Regions from separate parts of the Homo sapiens genome. Here region 2 is linked to region 1. Evidence: fine-mapped expression QTL. Tissue or cell type: unexposed skin. Region 1 holds a variant in brackets; the other region holds the start of a gene. All regions are shown on one strand. Distances are from middle to middle.

Region 1 (8,103 bases):
GCAGCTTAGAAGCAGCCACCCATCCCTGGGGCTCAGTAGCTAAATGTCTCAACCTAGGACAATCAGGCAGTCTAGTGACACAGCAGTGCAGACATCAGAGAGATCAGTCAGGTTGGGATGAAATGAATTACTGGGTTTGCAGTCCTTTTGGATGGTTCTGTAGCTGGCAGTTACATCTTCTTAGAAGTAGTATCAATAATTTAACATTCATTAATCATCATCTTTAGACCAGCTCTATTTTAGGTACCACTGGGGATTCAGATAAGAGAAAGAATGAAAGAGTGAATGAATGATATTTTTGTCCTTGGATTTAAAACCAGGCCAGGCCCTCATCTTGTCGCATTTGACTGTGAATTTGGTCTGTCTGCTTCCAGTCCTGCCCTCTGCTCTGTCCTCCACCTGCCACCAGAGTGATAATTCGAAAGCGTAAATCTGATCCGTCTTCTTCCTTACCTCTGTTAGGCTCTTTCTCAACTTCCCCAGTCCCAGAGGAGGTGTTTGACTTTATTAATGTGCCTTTCGGTGCCCTTTTCCGCCTGGCACTGATGTGCCCTCCAGTCATGTGACAAAACGACCTCCGCAAACTTCTTGCTAATCCTGGAATGCACTGCAGTGTTTTCACGTGGTATATATTTCCCTTGTGCTTTGGGACCCAATTCAGATGTCACTGCTTTTTTGAAGGCTTTTTGAATGCTTTCACTTTCTGAAAGGGCTTAACCTTGCACTTTGCACCTCACTGCTATTGTATACCATTAAAATGATTAGTTATGTGTATTTATTTTAGGATTGTCAGCTTAGGACAACTTGTCAACTATGTCTTATCAATCTCTCCCTCACAGTTTCTGTCCTAGTATCCATCATAATAGGTACTGAAAAAAATGTTGATTGAAGCCATAGCATATGTTCTTGTTACCTTTCTATGTAACAAATGTTTCCAAACCTCAGTGGCTTAAAACAACAATTTTGTTATGCTCACAGAATCTGTGGGTCGAGAATTTAGAGGCACAGCAGGCATGGCTGGAAGTTCCAAGGCTGGGGGCAGCTCACAGTGGAGGCTTGTTCACTCACATGGTGGCAGGTGGAGCTGGGTGCTGATTGGCTCATTCACTCACATTGTGGCAGGTGGACCTGGCTGGAGCCAGCTCTGGACTGGAGCACCTGCCCAGGGCCTCTCCATGTGCCTTGGGCCCCCTCACAGCATGGCCTCAGGACCGTTGGCTGTCTTATGTGGTGGTTCAGGACACCCTGAGTGAAATGGAAGCTACATCACTTTCCATGACCTAGGATTGGAAGCCACACAGTGACTTCCTGCCCAGATACACAGAGAAGGGAATTATTCTAAACTCCACCTCTTGATGGGAGTGTGTGGCATGGTCACATTGCAAAAGAGCATGTGGGAAGGAGATATTGTTACTGCTGTGTCTGGAGAATACAACCTGCCACGGTGTGTGGGAGAAATTAGTTCCACAGCTAGAGTTAATATCACTACTATTGCTACTACTGCAACTAGTGGCTAAACATTTATTGAGCACTTATTGTGTGCCAGGAATTAAGTTTTAAATGTAGCAACTCATTTAATCCTTCCATAACGCTGTGACAATTATACCACTTTACAGATGAGGAAACTGAGGTGCAGAGAGGTTAAGTAACCAGCCCAAGATCTCACAGCTACTGCCCATGCTGTGGGAAGTCAGTGAAGGCGAAGACTTAGGAATTCGATCCAAACTTTAGGTTTGCTGCTGGATTGTGACAGTGCATTTATCACATGGGAATTGATGGCTGTTTCAAGAGCCATTTTTTTTTTTTTTTTGAGACAAGATCTCGCTCTGTCACCCAGGCTGGAGTGCAGTGGCACAATCATTGTTCACGGCAGCCTCGGCCTCCCAGGCTCGAGGGATCCTCAGGGACCTTTTTTTTGTTTTTTTTTTAGATAGAGTCTTTCTCTGTTGCCCAGCCCACAGTGCAATGACATGATCTCGGCTCACTGCAACCTCCACCTGCTGGGTTCAAGCGATTCTCCTGCCTCAGCCTCCGGAGTAGCTGGGATTACAGGCGCACATCACCATGCTGGGCTAAATTTTTGTATTTTCAGTAGGGACAGGGTTTCACCATATTGGCCAGGCTGGTCTCGAACTCCTGACCTCAGGTGATCCACCTGCCTCGCCCTCCCAAAGTGCTGGGATTATAGGCATGAGCCACTGTGCCTGGCCTCAAGGGACATTTTTGATGAAAGTATGGATCCAGATAAGGTCCTTGCACCTGTGGGCTTGGGAAGCTGAACCTCGAGCTGTCCTGGTTTTATGGTTCCACTTGTGCCATCTGGACCTTGGTTAGACTGTCCCTTGATGGCAGTGACATTGACCGAATGGGCTGGAGTGCAGTGGTGCGATCTCGGCTTGCTGCAACCTCCATCTCCCAGGTTCAAGCAATTCTCCTGCCTCAGCCTCCTGATAGCGTGTGCCATCACACCCGGCTAATTTTTGTATTTTTAGTAGAGCTGGGGATTCACCATGTTGGCCAGGCTGGTCTCGAACCCCTAACCTCAAGTGATCCATCTGCCTTGGCCTCCCAAAGTGCTGGGATTACAGGCATGAGCCACCGTGCCTGGCCAGTGCAAGTGTGTTTAGCCAGCTTCATTTACTCCCTAACTCCTTGCCTCAGATTCTGCATCCGTAAAGTGAGGTCACTAGGAGTATTGACCTCAGAGGGCTGTTGCAAGGTTAAAGCTGGTTATACAAGCAGAGTACTTGGAACAGTGTCAGTTACCTGGCTGGGGCTCAGTAAGTGCTGGCTGTCCTTATTGGAAAGGTTCAAGTGTTGTGTTTTCCTGTCACCTGATCTGGAAAGAGGTCAAACAAAGGATCTTTTAGCCCATGCCACTTCCTGTCCTTCCTTGGCCGAAGGCTGACAGGTAAGAATCCCCAGAAGTTGTCACCGATGTGCCTGTGGAAGTGGCCTTCCCGATTGCTTTCTCTCTGGAGCCTTTAAGTTCCATGAAGCACTTAGTTGGCCTGGACTCCACCAATTCAGCATGCTGTGGCAGCTCAGTTCAGTTCCCATTTTTAACTTGGGACTGCATAGATTCCCCATCATTTCCTTTAGGACCAGGTGGGCAAGAAGATCCAGTCAGTGCTTTATTACTTCTCACTGATATTCACAGAGCACATTTAGTGTGAGCCATGGAATAAGAAAACTCTTAGTCACATTCTGTGTCATGAGAAGTTTACTTAACCTTGAAAACCATTTCCTTGTCTGGTAAATGTGGCTGTAATGAAATCGACCCCATTCACTGTTGTGAGGATTAAATGAGATGATGTATGCAGAGAAACTAGGACAGTGCCTGGGAAAGTGCTACTCATTATGATCATTTGTCTTCAGTTTAGAACAATATATACTTGCTTATTTAAAAAAAGGAGATAATAGAGAAAAGGTATTGAGAAAAATAGGAGAGGAGAAAATCACTCAAATTCTCACCATTCAGCGATTCAGCCCAGTATCATCAATGTTTTGTTTGGTTGTTTTTGTAGGTGTAGGATTTTTTTTTTTTAATGTAATTTTACTGCATATGCAGTTTTGCATTTTTTACCCAAACTTAATGTTCTTTTTAATGTTCTTGTACTTACAAAGATTTATCCTGTTTATATATTGATATCTCACCTTGGCAGAAATGAGATAAAATTTTAAAATATTCATTTGGTGGCTTTCACAGTATTATTTGATCTCTAGGGTCTCCTGTGAGTTTGCTACATGGTATGTTGTATTACTTTCATCTTATAGATGAAGAAAGATACTAGTGTGGCTGAGTCGCATGCAGAATTTGGAGGAGCATGGTGCTGAATGAGCTTTGATGATTGTAGAGGCCATAACTGGAAAAGTAGATGTAAAATGGTGAGGTCGATCCCTCTGACACTTTCACATGCTCAGTCACGCATCTTGAACATATAAGTTGGATCCTGTGCCTAGAGAGGTAGGTTTCTGAGCCAAGGCATATTCCAAAAATTGCATGAGAAGCTGGCTTTCCCAGACACAGTGACCCCTCCCTGC[T/C]CACTAACTCCTGAGTCATACCTCCTGCCCCTAGCCAGGTTTATCTAGGACTTGAGCACAAAGAAAAAGTGGGAGCATCTTTGAACAAGAAATATCTTGAAAAACTAGTTAAGTGGTATCATGTATTTGTGGGATGGGTGATTTCAAAACCCAATCTAAAAGGACAGGACCTTGCTCATTGACAATTTATTGTCTGATGCAATGTTTCTTAATCTTTTTGGGTCTTGAATTCCTTTGAGAATCTTTTGAAGTTTATGGACTCTTTTCCCAGAAGAACACACTCATGTGTATGTAACACAATTTTGCATTCAATCTTAGGGACTGCAGGTGTCTACATTAGTTATATATTGATGTAAAAAAAAAAGCCCCAAACTTAAGGCTTAAAGGAACAATAGATGTTTATTATCTCACAGTTTCTGTGGTTCAGAAAGTCAGTAACATCTTAACTGGATACTTCTGACTCGGAGTCTCCCAGGAGGTTGCAGTCAAGATGTTGTTGGGGGGAAAGGGGCAGGTTCAGTGGCTCATGCCTGTGATCCCTACACTCTGGGAAGCAAAGCCAGGAGGATTACTTGAGCCCAGGAGTTTGAGACCAGCCTGGGCAACACAGTGAGACCCTATGTATTAGTCAGTTCTCACATTGCTATAAATACATGAGACTGGAGAATTTATAAAGAAAAGAGGTTTAATTGTCTCACAGTTCCACAGGCTGTTCAGGGAGCATAATGCTGGCATCTGCTCGGCTTCTGGGGCAACCACAGGAAACTTTCAATCATGGTGGAAGGTGAAGGGGAAGCAGGCGCGCCTTACGTGGCCAAAGCAGGAGCAAGAGAGAGAGGGGGGAGGTGCCACACACTTTTAAACAATTAGATACTGTGAGAACTCTAACAAGCACAGCACCAAAAGGGTGAAGCTAAATCATTCATGAAAGATCCATTCCTGTGATCCGGTCACCTCCCACCAGGCCCCACCTCTAACATTGGGGATTATAATTGAACATGAGATTTAGGTGGGTACAGAGACCCCAACCATATCATCCCGTCTCTATAAGAAATAAAAAATTTAGCCAGGCATGGTGGTGTGTGCTGGTGGTCCCAGATACTCAGGAGGCTGATGTGGGAGGATCACTTGAGCCTCGGAGGTCAAGGCTGCAGTGAGCTATGATTGCACCACTGCACTCTAGCCTGGGTGACAGAGTGAGACCCTGTCTCAACAACAACAAAAAGATGCCTGGGGTTGACATTATCTGAAGGCTTGACTGAGTTGACTGTGGCTGGAGAATCTACTTCCAGTCACATGCTAGCAAGTTAGTGCTAGCTGTTGGCAGGAGGCCTCATGTGGTCTTCCCCATATGGCTGCTTTGATGTCCTCATAACATCATGCTTGTCTTTTTATGACCTAGCCCTGGAAGTCACATTCCACCATTTGTGCATTTCCTATTGGTCACGTAGGTCAGTCCTATTTAGTGCATAGGGCAAGGTCTGAGAGGGGAGTAGTGCTGACTGCCCATGCCCTCTCCTGGTGCACGCCGCTTCCAGCACCCAGAAGCTCTCCTAACTCCATTATTTAGGGTTTTCATATGGGATTTCATTACATGGGTATGACTGATCAAATCACTGACCAATGCTGATTGGATCAATCTGCAGTCCCCTTCTTGTCCTTGGAGGTCTAAGGCTGGGGCGGAAAACTCCACAACTCTAAGCGTGGCCAGCTCCTTCCTTGAAACTGCCTCCGTGCTCACCTTCAGTCACCTCGTTAGCATAAACTCTGGGATGGCCAAAAGGGGCTTCTTATAAATAACAAAAGGTACTCCCATTGCTTAGGAAGTTCCAAGGGGTTTAGGAGCTCAGTGCCAGGAACTGGGGACAAAGACCAAATATGTATATATATATAAATACTACAGTAGTGAATTTTATATAGCAAACATGCATTATTTTTATTTTTGGCTAAAATTTTTTTCTAGTTATAAAACTGGTACATACTCATTGCAGAGGACTGGGGGAAGGAGTAAAATATTAAGAAAAAAATAAAAATCACTTGCCATCCTGTCACCTAGTATTTTCTTTCTAGTTCTTTTCATGCAGTTATATATAACATTTTGATCTTTCTTTCTATGTTACAGAAGTCATATTTGCTTATTGCAGAGTAATCCAAAGAGTACAGAATGTCTAAAGTTAAAAAAGTTATTTAAAAAAAAAAGATCCTTGCCTGGGAGGAACTTTCTATTGTAGGTTGGGAGGGGAGAGAGAGGGGCTGTGGGTCAGAGGATGCCCTGGTCAGGTTTGGGAGCCTGTGTCTCTTTGGAGGCAGCAGAGGTCTGCACAGCAGGGTATTACTATTATAGGGGAATGGTGGGGTGGGATGTGTGGAAGGGGAATTAAACTGCCAAGAAGAAAACAATTATTTTTATGTTGAGAAGCATTATTTTCAGGGGTCAGAAGCCCTTTGTGGGGCAGAGGGAAATTAAGGAGGTATTTAATAAACAGGTGCAGCTGAATGTGTGTGGTTAAAGTGCAATCCAGTAGTTATTTGTCTGGATTGTTTATAACCTGCTTCCAGCCTAGACAAGTTGATTTGACCCTGCTGTCCTGGCTCATTCAGGCCACTTAACACTGTTTACCATTGGGTGGGGAGGACGTGCATGATCCGCTGGCCGAGTGCCTTTGTAAGGTCTGTAAATAGGATGCATTCTGGTTAAACTCGTTATTGCCTCACAAATGCTAGTATCTGATGGGTCTCAGATGTTTTCTTTTGCACTGGGGAAGACTGGAGGAGAATGAAGCTTTCTTGAACCAGTGATTGGGTCTCTACCAAAGAGAGAAACTTAAAGCTAGTGAGAGCCTTAAGATATTTCATTTGAGCACTTGGCTGGCACCATGTAGGTAGAGACACTTTAAAGTAACAGTGCTTTGCTACACCTGATTTGAATCATCTGTGGAGCTTCAAAAAAAAATCCTAATTAATCCTAAGACCAGTTATGTCAGGTGGGGTCCAGGCACTGTTAGTTCTTTAAAGCTCCCCAGGTGATTCCAGTGTAGGTCCAGGATTGAGAAGCAGTCCTTAAAGATGCTGGTGTACCCTGACTTGCCTCTAGCCTTCTTTGCAGGAGATGTATGGGGGTTGGTTGTAGTTGCGCTGTCATAGAACACCGCAATTCAAAGGATACCTAATGTTATGAATGTAGTTAAATTGTTTGCAAAATGTTCTGTGTTTCAGGAATACTGCAATCATTTGATTAAAATGTCACCATATTTGTGTGTGTATACAGTCATGGGTCACTTAATGATGGGGACATGTTTTAAGAAGTGCATCATTCGGCAATTTCATTCTTGTGTGGACATCATAGGGTGTACTTCAACAAACCTAGATGGGATATATATTTTCATTTATATATTTTATTATGGAAAATGAAATGTCCCAGCACTGTTACTGAATATCAGTCATTTCCCCTACTTGATCTGCCATGCCAACATTAAGTGCCATATATTAGATCTCTATATATGCTCCATTATAATCTTACAGGATCACTGTTGCACATGTGTTTCCTCATTGATTGAAATGTTATTCAGTGCATGACTGTACATATAGTAAAAATGTTATGCATCATATTTTAACATACTGATATTACTAATGAGTTGTCCTCATGGTTACTTTAAATATCATAATTAATGCCATCAACCAGAATATATCAAATAAATTCAGATACCACTTGTTCTGTTTATTTCCTTCCCCTGCCAATTTTGTATTTTTCCTGATTCTGCTGAAGCCAAGATGGGGTTCTGTGTAAGATTTTGTTTGTGAGGAAAGGTTCTGCATGAATTAAAGTTTTGCAAGCCATGGGCATTTCATTGTATGGGCCGTTTTTGAGGTCTGTCATCTTGCAGATTAGATTAGCTTACACTGAGGCACAGTCCCCTGCTGGGCTGGGCAGAGAGCTGCACTCCACTAGTATTGAGCTGTCCCGGCTGTTCACCAGCTGGATCCACTTCAGATAGGCATAGCCGGGGCAGCCGCCATTCCCATTTGTGGGGGAAAAGGGAAGCTATCACAAGAATGGGC
Region 2 (8,103 bases), 46 kb before region 1:
CAAAGTGTTTAATTAGTTAATTAATTAGTTAATTTGTTTGCCCTCTCAACCCAGCTTTTCCTCACTCTAGGAAGAACTAGAAAGAGAGGGATTAATTTATTTTTGAAACACTAGTTTCCAATGAGCAAAATTAAGAATAATTTTTTTTTAATGTGGATTTCCTGATTCTCTTAAAAAGTAGGAAAATCAGGCAACACCACACCTTCCTTCCCAGCAGCAACACTTTGCTGAAGCTGTGCGTGCTCTTTCAGGCTGTGCTCTGGGTGCACAGGCCCCAGTACTCCCTGGCACTGTGCTTCAGCTCGGCTTCTGCAGGCTTCTGCATTTAACTCCCTGATGGACAAGATCAAGGAGTCTTCCAAAATGTCCAAAATAAACAACTGATTCCAGGCCGGTGCAGTAGAGGTTTCAAAATTCAAATGCAGAATGTTTTGAAGCAAGCTGGAATGTTCAGCCCGGGCACCAGACATTGCTGACTGGGGACTTCGGTGCACTCCTCTCCTTTGACATCTCTCCTTCCCTTAGGACTCTCTCTTTCTCTCTCTCTCTCTCTCTTTCTTTCTTTCTTTCTCTCTCTCTTTCTTTCTTTTCTTTCTTTCTCCTTCCTTCCTTCCTTCCTTCCTTCCTTCCTTCCTTCCTTCCTTCCTTCCTTCCTTCTCTCCCTCCCTCCCTTCCTTCCTTCCTTTCTTTCTCTCTGTCTTTCTTTCTGACAGAGTTTCGCTCTTGTTGCCCAGGCTGGAGCTTGTTGCCCAGGCTGGAGTGCAATGGCACGATCTTGGCTCACTGCAACCTCTTCCTCCCGGGTTCAAGAGACTCTCCTGCCTCAGCCTCCTGAGTAGCTGGGATTACAGGCATGCACCACCATGGCCGGCTAATTTTTTGTATTTTTAGTACAGACAGGGTTTCTCTATGTTGGTCAGGCTGGTCTTGAACTCCCAATCTCAGGTGATCTGCCCACCTCAGCTACCCAAAGTGCTGGGATTATAGGGGTGAGCCACTGTACCCAGCCTCCAATTCACTTCTCTGCCTGCTGATGAACTCCTGAAGGGGCCACCATCACATCACTGTTCAGGACTCATTTAATCGTTTCTATGTCTGGAGGGCAGAGGCATTCTTTTAAATTATACTTTTGTCTCCCCATCCAACACTTTGCACAGTTCTTTGCATATCGTAGATGTGGAAATTAGAAAGAATGCCATGCTGGGAATCAGCCATAACACATCTGGGTGGTGATGGAAGTCAAGGGTTGAAAGATCATCCAGAAGGATGCAAGGGGCCAAGTAGTATGAAGAGGGGCAGGTTGAGATTGAAAGAACGAGTAATAGAGAAGGGATAATTGAGTATAGGGGTTCAAGGATGAAGGCCTAGGCAGAGGCCTCAGAAAGTACAGTCTTGCACCTTGATGGGGGTACACCTTGGTGGGGGTCAGAGAGTTCCAAAGCAGGCTGAGATGCCCCTTCTGGAAGATTCCTTGACTCTTCTCTTTCTCTCCCCCTCCATATTCAGTTCTTCAGAGAATTTCATTGACTCTGCTTTCTAAATGCTTTCAGACTCCACCCATTTCCACAACCTGCATCAGCACCACCCTAGTTTAAGCTGTGATCATCTCTCACCTGCGCAATGGAAAGAACCTCCCATCCAGTGTCCCTTGTCCACCCCTACCATCTGATGCTCTATTCTTACCCAGCAGCCAGAGTGAGCCAAGCTCCTCAGGTTAGAAGGTCCTACTAGATTTGGCCTCTTTGACCTCTCTGATCACATTCCTCCTTCTCCTTCTGTTTTATGCCATTTCAGACACACTAACACACCTTTAATTTTCTGAACATGTTATGGGGCTTTGCACTTGCTGTTCCCTGCACTTGGAATCTTCTTACTCCAGAAATCTCCAGCGCTCACACACTCCCTGTAATCAGGTCTCGCTCAAATGTCACTTCCTCTGAGGGGTCTTTTCTGACCACCTCACCTAGCAAAGAGTCCTTCTTCCCACTGGAACCCCCAAACATACACACTATTTCTTTTCCTTTCTGTTTTTTATTTGTTTGTTTGTTTGTTTTGGAGATACTCTCGCTCTGTTGCCCAGGCTGGACTGCAGTGGTGTGATCTCAGCTCGTTGCAACCTCTGCCTCCCAGGTTCAAGCGATTCTCATGCCTCAGCCTCCCAAGTAGCTGGGACCACAAGTGTGCACCACCACGGCTGGCTAATTTTTGTATTTTTTGTAGAGACAGGGTTTCGCCATGTTGGCCAGGCTGGTCTCGAACTCCTGACATCAAGTGATCCCCCTGCCTTGGCCTCCCAAGGTGCTGGGATTATAGGCATGAGCCACTGTGCCCGCCCACACATTTCTATACTCCACTTTTCTTCAGAACACGTTACATTATATTATATACTTGTTTCATTGTCTGTGTTTCCCACCAGAATGTAAGCTTCATGAGAGCAGAGACTTTTCTTAACACGTAGTAGGTGCTCAATAAATAAATGAAGGAGTCTAGCAAATGGGAACTGAGAGCTGCCAGAGTCACGGGTGTCTCTGGGAAAGAGGTAATAATTAACACACAAGGAAAGATTCCTGGTTGGGCACAGTAGCTCATGCCTGTAATCTCTGCACTTTGGGAGGCTGAGGCGGGCAGATCACCAGGTCAGGAGTTCAACACCAGGCTGCCCAACATGGTGAAACACTGTCTCTACTAAAAGTACAAAAATTATCCGGGTGTGGTGGTGCACGCCTGTAGTCCCAGTGACTCAGGAGGCTGAGGCAGGAGAATCACTTGAACCCGGGAGGTGGAGGTTGCAGTGAGACAAGATTACACCACTGCATTCCAGCCTGGGTCACAGAGTGAGAACCTGTCTCTTAAAATAAAATGAAAAATAAAACGTATATCTGATAACCATAGTCCCTTACTCAACACCTTCAGTGGCTTCCCAATGGTCCCAACCCCTTAACACACCATACAATGCCCTCTAGGTTCTGGCACTCGATTTCTTCTCAGCTCATTTCTTGTCACTTCTCTCCTACAGTCAAGTTTGGGCCCAGCAGACTGTCCTGGTCCTCTAACTGGGCTCCTTTCTGGGCCTGCAGAGGTGCTGTTTCTTCAGTCTGCGATTCCTTACCTCCCCTCTGTCTCTTCCTCTGCTGCTGCCTTCTGTTCTTTGGCATTCAACCGAGTTTTCCTTTCCTCTGAGAAGCCTGGGACCTACCCCGACCAAAGCTCCCTCCTCCTTGCCCCTCCCCCAATAACACAGGGTTGGGGTCTCTGCATTTGCTTCCTCAACACTGTACTTTTCTTGTCATGTCTATTTTATGGTCTGTGTCCCCACTAGACTGCAAGTTGCATGAGGGCAGGGCGGTCTATTCTGCTTTGGTCGCCTCGTGACGGTGTCTACCCAGCAAGTTGTGTGTGTTGGGTAAGTAGTGAGAAAACGAAAAAGCACTTGCTTTACAGGGCGGTTGGTCATAAAATAATAATAGCTTATATTTACTGACCACTTGTGATGTATCAGGCACCATTCTAAATGCTTTACAAGTATGTCACAGATTTCTCCCATAACCCTCTTAAGTAAGGGTTATTTCCTCCACATAGCAGATGGGGAAATTGAGGCACAGAGAGGTTAAGTAACTTGCCAAGGGCCACAGCGAGGAAGTGGAGGAACCGGCGTTAGAACCCAGGCTGTTTCCAGAGTCCAAATTCTATCCAAGAGTGAAGTGCAATATGGGGTTCCACTTCGTGAACAGATTCAAGTCTCCAAAGGGCTTTGTTTTTGTTTCCAGGAGGAAGGACGAGCTTCTGTGCCGCCGGCTTCCCAGGTTATGGGTGGCCAGCTGGGCTTTGGGAAGGGCCTGTACATCTCGCCGGCGGCCCCGGAGTCTGGGTGTGAAGCCCTGATTAACTTGCCGGGCTGCTCGGCCCACACGCCAGCCCTGCCCAGGTCCTCCGGTGCCCCGGGCCACCCTCATGCCCCCGCCAGGCCCGGGGCCGGGACTCGCGTCTCCAGGGGCGGGGCCGGGGGCGGGGCCGGGCCTCTCTTCGAGGCCGCCGCCCTGGCCCCGCGCTCGCCTCGCCGAGTGCGGCGGGCCGGGCTGGAGCTGGAGGGGCGGGGACTCGGGAGGGGCCGCAGCGCGGCTGCTGGTGCCGTTGCGGGAGAAGAGGAAGCGGCGCGTCCCCTGAGGCGTGCGCCTGGATGGACTGAAGGACGGTCCGACGCGCGCGGAGGGAGAGGGCCAGGGGCGAGGTCAGGCTCGGCGGGGGCGCGGGCGGCGCCCGGAGGGGGCCCCGGGGAGGGAGGCGGGGAGGCGTGGAGCGGGGAGCGGGGAGCGGGGAGTGGGGAGCGGGCCCGCGCCGGCTGAGCTCCGGGTCGGGCCCGAGACCCCTCCCCTGGCTGGGCGGGCGCGCTGCGAGCGCGCTCCGGCAGCTGAAAGCGGAGCTCCGGACTCCCTTCTTCCCCGGTTTCTTTTCTTTCCAATCAGCGAGATATAAACACCCTGCAAGGTAAAACAATAGCGGGGCCACCTGGGACGCGTCGCGCGCAGAGCTCCCACGGTTGGGGCGGGGGCCGGGAGTCGCGGCCCCACCGCGGAGCCCCTTCCCGATTTGCCCTGGCGGAGGGTGGGGCTACCTGCGGCGCCCGGGCTCGGTAGGAGGTGACGGGAATTCCCAGGAGTGAAGCATTTGGTGGAAGTATTTCAGGAACAATCGGGCTTCCCACTGTTGCCCTGCTCTGGGCAGGGAAACTGAGGCGGAGGGAAAGACAGAGACTTGCCCAAGGTCAGAATGCAGAGGTTGACTGTCCTGGTCCAGGAACCGGACCCAGGTGTCCGGACCAGCTCAGCGCTCAGCCCCAGTGGGTTTTGCAGCTTTGCCTTTGATAAAAATCTCTGTTGTGTTTGTTTTAGAAATCTGCTCGCGCTGGGGTACCGCTTCAGGGCTGCCGAACGCCAACTTGCTTCGTGTGCCCTAGGCAGGCGTGGGGCAGGTGGCGCCTCCGTGACCTACCACCATGGATGGAAACGGACTTTTTGGTGAAGAAACCCAAACGGTTGATGCCAGGCAGGGTGATTTGGCCGTCAAAGGTTTTGACGAAACCTGCCCTGTTCTCTCTGGGGAATCCGAATGAGGGAGATCACAGACACCTTCACTGAGAAGCCAAGGACATTTCTGTATAATCAGTGGATGAAAGGATTTTCTCAGACCCTTTTTTCCGTGCTTCTGGAGGATTAATCCACTACAGTCTGCAATTTCAGTGGAAACTGCAAGGCACACGATGTGGCAGGAGCCGGGAGCGACTTCCGAATTGTTGTGGACCCTTCCTGTAGCATAGGGGAGTTTTCACACTTGCCTCCACTCCTCCCCTTCCCCCCAACTCCCTCCTTCTGATCTCTTCTTTTTAATCTGTTCCCATTTTCCGAGTTAAGTTCTATTTCCAAAACTGTTCTCTGGAGCTATAAGTGGATTGCCAGAAATGAGAGATTAGGAGCTGGGAGAAGAGGAAGCGCCTTGTGTTGTGTCTCCTGGAGGCTGCCGACATGAAGTGCTTTTTCCCGGTGCTGAGCTGTCTGGCTGTGCTGGGTAAGTGGCTCTGCTTATCAGTGCAATCGATGTGAAAGTTTAACCTGCTCTTGGTTCCTGTAATTTCTCGTGGTTCTTTTTCATCAACACTAGGATTTGGGGGACACCAGGAGGCGGTCGGTGTGTGTCACAGGTTGGAGTAGAGTACGAAGAGGCCCGTTTCTAACCCAAGAGCAACGGTGGAATATCATTTGTTATCTATAAGAAGGAACATTTGCTGTTCTTAAAGTGTCTGTCTTGGCCCCTGGGGTGAGGTCCTGCATCTGCACATCTGTGGTTTAGGGACTTCACATGGCTGGTGGGCTGCTGTCTTGTAGCATGTCAAACATGGATGCTCTGGTGTTTTCACTTCTTTGTTGGGCTGCATTGATTCCTAATTGGGAGTGGGAACATCATTCCCCTCTGTCTCGAAAGTTGGTTTGGGTGATAATGATGGTGCCTTTTTTGAGGTGGAAATGGGAGTAAGTGGGATGGGGGTTGAAGGGATGCTTTGCCTACCTGAGTGGTCTGAAGGCTAAAAATGTGAGGGCACTAGTCCTGTGTCTCCTCACCAAGGAAGCTTAGATCGTAGTTCTGGGAGAAGGAGAGCCTGAAGAAAAGGAAGCTGCCTGGTAGGGGAGATTTTAGGATTGGCTTTTGTGCTCCCACAAATCAGAATGCCTAGAGTGGGAAGAAGAAACTATGGCCCTGAGAGGTGAACCTTTGACACCCCTCTTAAGGTGCAGATGCAGGACCTTCACCCCAGTGAAGAGGCCCCTCTGCTCAACAATTGCCTATTCTTTTTATGCCATTGAGCACTGTCTTCAGCGTGCTGTCTTAGAACACATCTCAGGTCTAGGATAAACTTCATTGCCAGGATTTGGTGCCATTCTCTTTCCCCATCTCAGACCTCATACATGAGCACACCCCCTGCCCTCTCTGTAAGGCTCGGTCCTCTGCATTCAGAAGGGATTATGATTGTTGCCTACAGGGTTCACGTCTCCAAATCTAGGTGTCTTGCACGTAGGGAACTTAGGGTGATCTGTTGGCAGTGGAGATTGCTTCCATGCATTGTCTACACCCTTGCAGTAGGTAACAGGTGTGTGGGAAGAGAATGGACTTTAGAATTAGAGGACCTGAGTTCCTATCCCAGCTTCACCATGATTGACATCTGAATGTCAATAAAACAGAAACAATAAAACAAGGGAAGGTGTGATAACTAAAGGATATAAGGTGTCCTAAATGCCTTGACTGCCTTAAATAATGTCTGAAACTCATAATAGATTTGTGCAATCAGTGGTTCTCAAACTCTCGTGTGCATGTTGGAATCACTGGGGAAGCTTTTAAAAATTCTGATTTCAGGCAACAACCCCAGATCAGTGAAACCAAACTCGCTTAGGGAGTGGGACCCAGGTCTCAGCCTTTGAGCTATCTCAGGTAATTCCATGCATGGTTCAGTAGAGAACCAGTGGGTGAGTTCACTAGCGCCAGTGCCCTACCACCCAACGCATGCAGACACCCTGCTGGTAGTTTAGTTAGTCTTCTGTTCAGCTGTGGGCTGGGATACAGGCAGTGTCTCCATGTCACCTGTATGCTCAGGCAGAGTCAAGAAGGCAGGGAGCCCTTCATTTGCCAGTCTCTTCATATTGGATCTGTATTTGTTGTACTGTATGTGTCATTCGCTTAGTGTCTGGGTTTAAATCAGCAATTAGTGATTCATGTGGATTCAACAGGACACAAACAAGGAAAGCCCTTGGGGAGGTTTGGATGTGGGGTGGGGTGTGTGGCTAAGGCGGGAAAGAGGGCTGAGTGGCAGGGTGGGGCCCAGGGCAGGAGAAGTAACCATCAATGGGAAAACAAGGCAATGTGACATTTGTGCCTTTTGTTTCTTCTGGCTGCTCAAGTAATGTAAGGCTGCATGCTGGTCCCCCTGCTGTTCGCTCTCTGGGCCACTCTGTGGAGTGGAGCTCGGGCCCTGGCACCTGGCAGGTGCTGTCATTTTCCCTCCACCCTCATCTTCATGTGTAAACAGGTGCCATGGAGGAAAATGAGCATCAAGGTGGCTTTAAAGGGGCACAGTGGCAGACATCCAGATGCAGGCTGAAGTGGGAAGGTTTGGAACTGTAGGCATGCATGTGGATCTCTGCCTGATTTGGAGCCCCACTGGTGGAACCTCATCTTTCTCTTCACCTGATGGCTCTCAGTATGGCAGGAAGGAGGCCTGGCTACTACTTTACTAATCTGGGAGAGGTAGAAGGCGTTTGGGGAGGGAGCAAAACCCATGTTGGGGTCTTATTTCCTGCTTGTCTTCTGATGTGGTCTGGTTCATGTGTCAGCATTCTTGCTGCATAATGTGAATTAATGTGTAGTATGAATTTAAAACAGCGAAGAATCCCAAGGTTTTAAGCCCATATAGGTCACATGCCTGGAATAAAATTTTGTTTAAAAAAGTTGGATAAGGCTAAGTGCTCTGAAAGTGAGACCGATGCAGGTACCAGCCTCTAGAAATGGCAATTTTAGTTAGAAAACCCTGGACAGTATGTGAGGGGTATACAGGGTAAA

The links. PIP is the estimated chance that this variant, and not a neighbour inherited with it, causes the effect.
Region 2: it holds the start of IGSF3, and the variant in region 1 is fine-mapped to the expression of IGSF3 in unexposed skin (GTEx, PIP above 0.99). The same link has a PIP of 0.9 or more in esophagus mucosa.

Annotation. Positions count from the first base shown.
Region 1 is chr1:116,617,911-116,626,013 of GRCh38, reverse strand. All of the region lies in intron 2 of IGSF3 (immunoglobulin superfamily member 3), which reads left to right. Among named protein-coding and RNA genes, the nearest start is that of IGSF3, 46 kb to the left of the region's middle. RefSeq lists an enhancer at 6,404-6,911. The variant T/C (reference allele first, on the strand shown) is at 4,045.
Region 2 is chr1:116,663,743-116,671,845 of GRCh38, reverse strand. IGSF3 (immunoglobulin superfamily member 3) reads left to right here and starts at 4,113. Exons shown (of 11, transcript NM_001007237.3): 1 at 4,113-4,228; 2 at 4,890-5,562. The coding sequence starts at 5,520. It overlaps MIR320B1 (microRNA 320b-1), which reads right to left and starts at 100; the gene lies at 29-100. RefSeq lists a silencer at 3,879-4,268.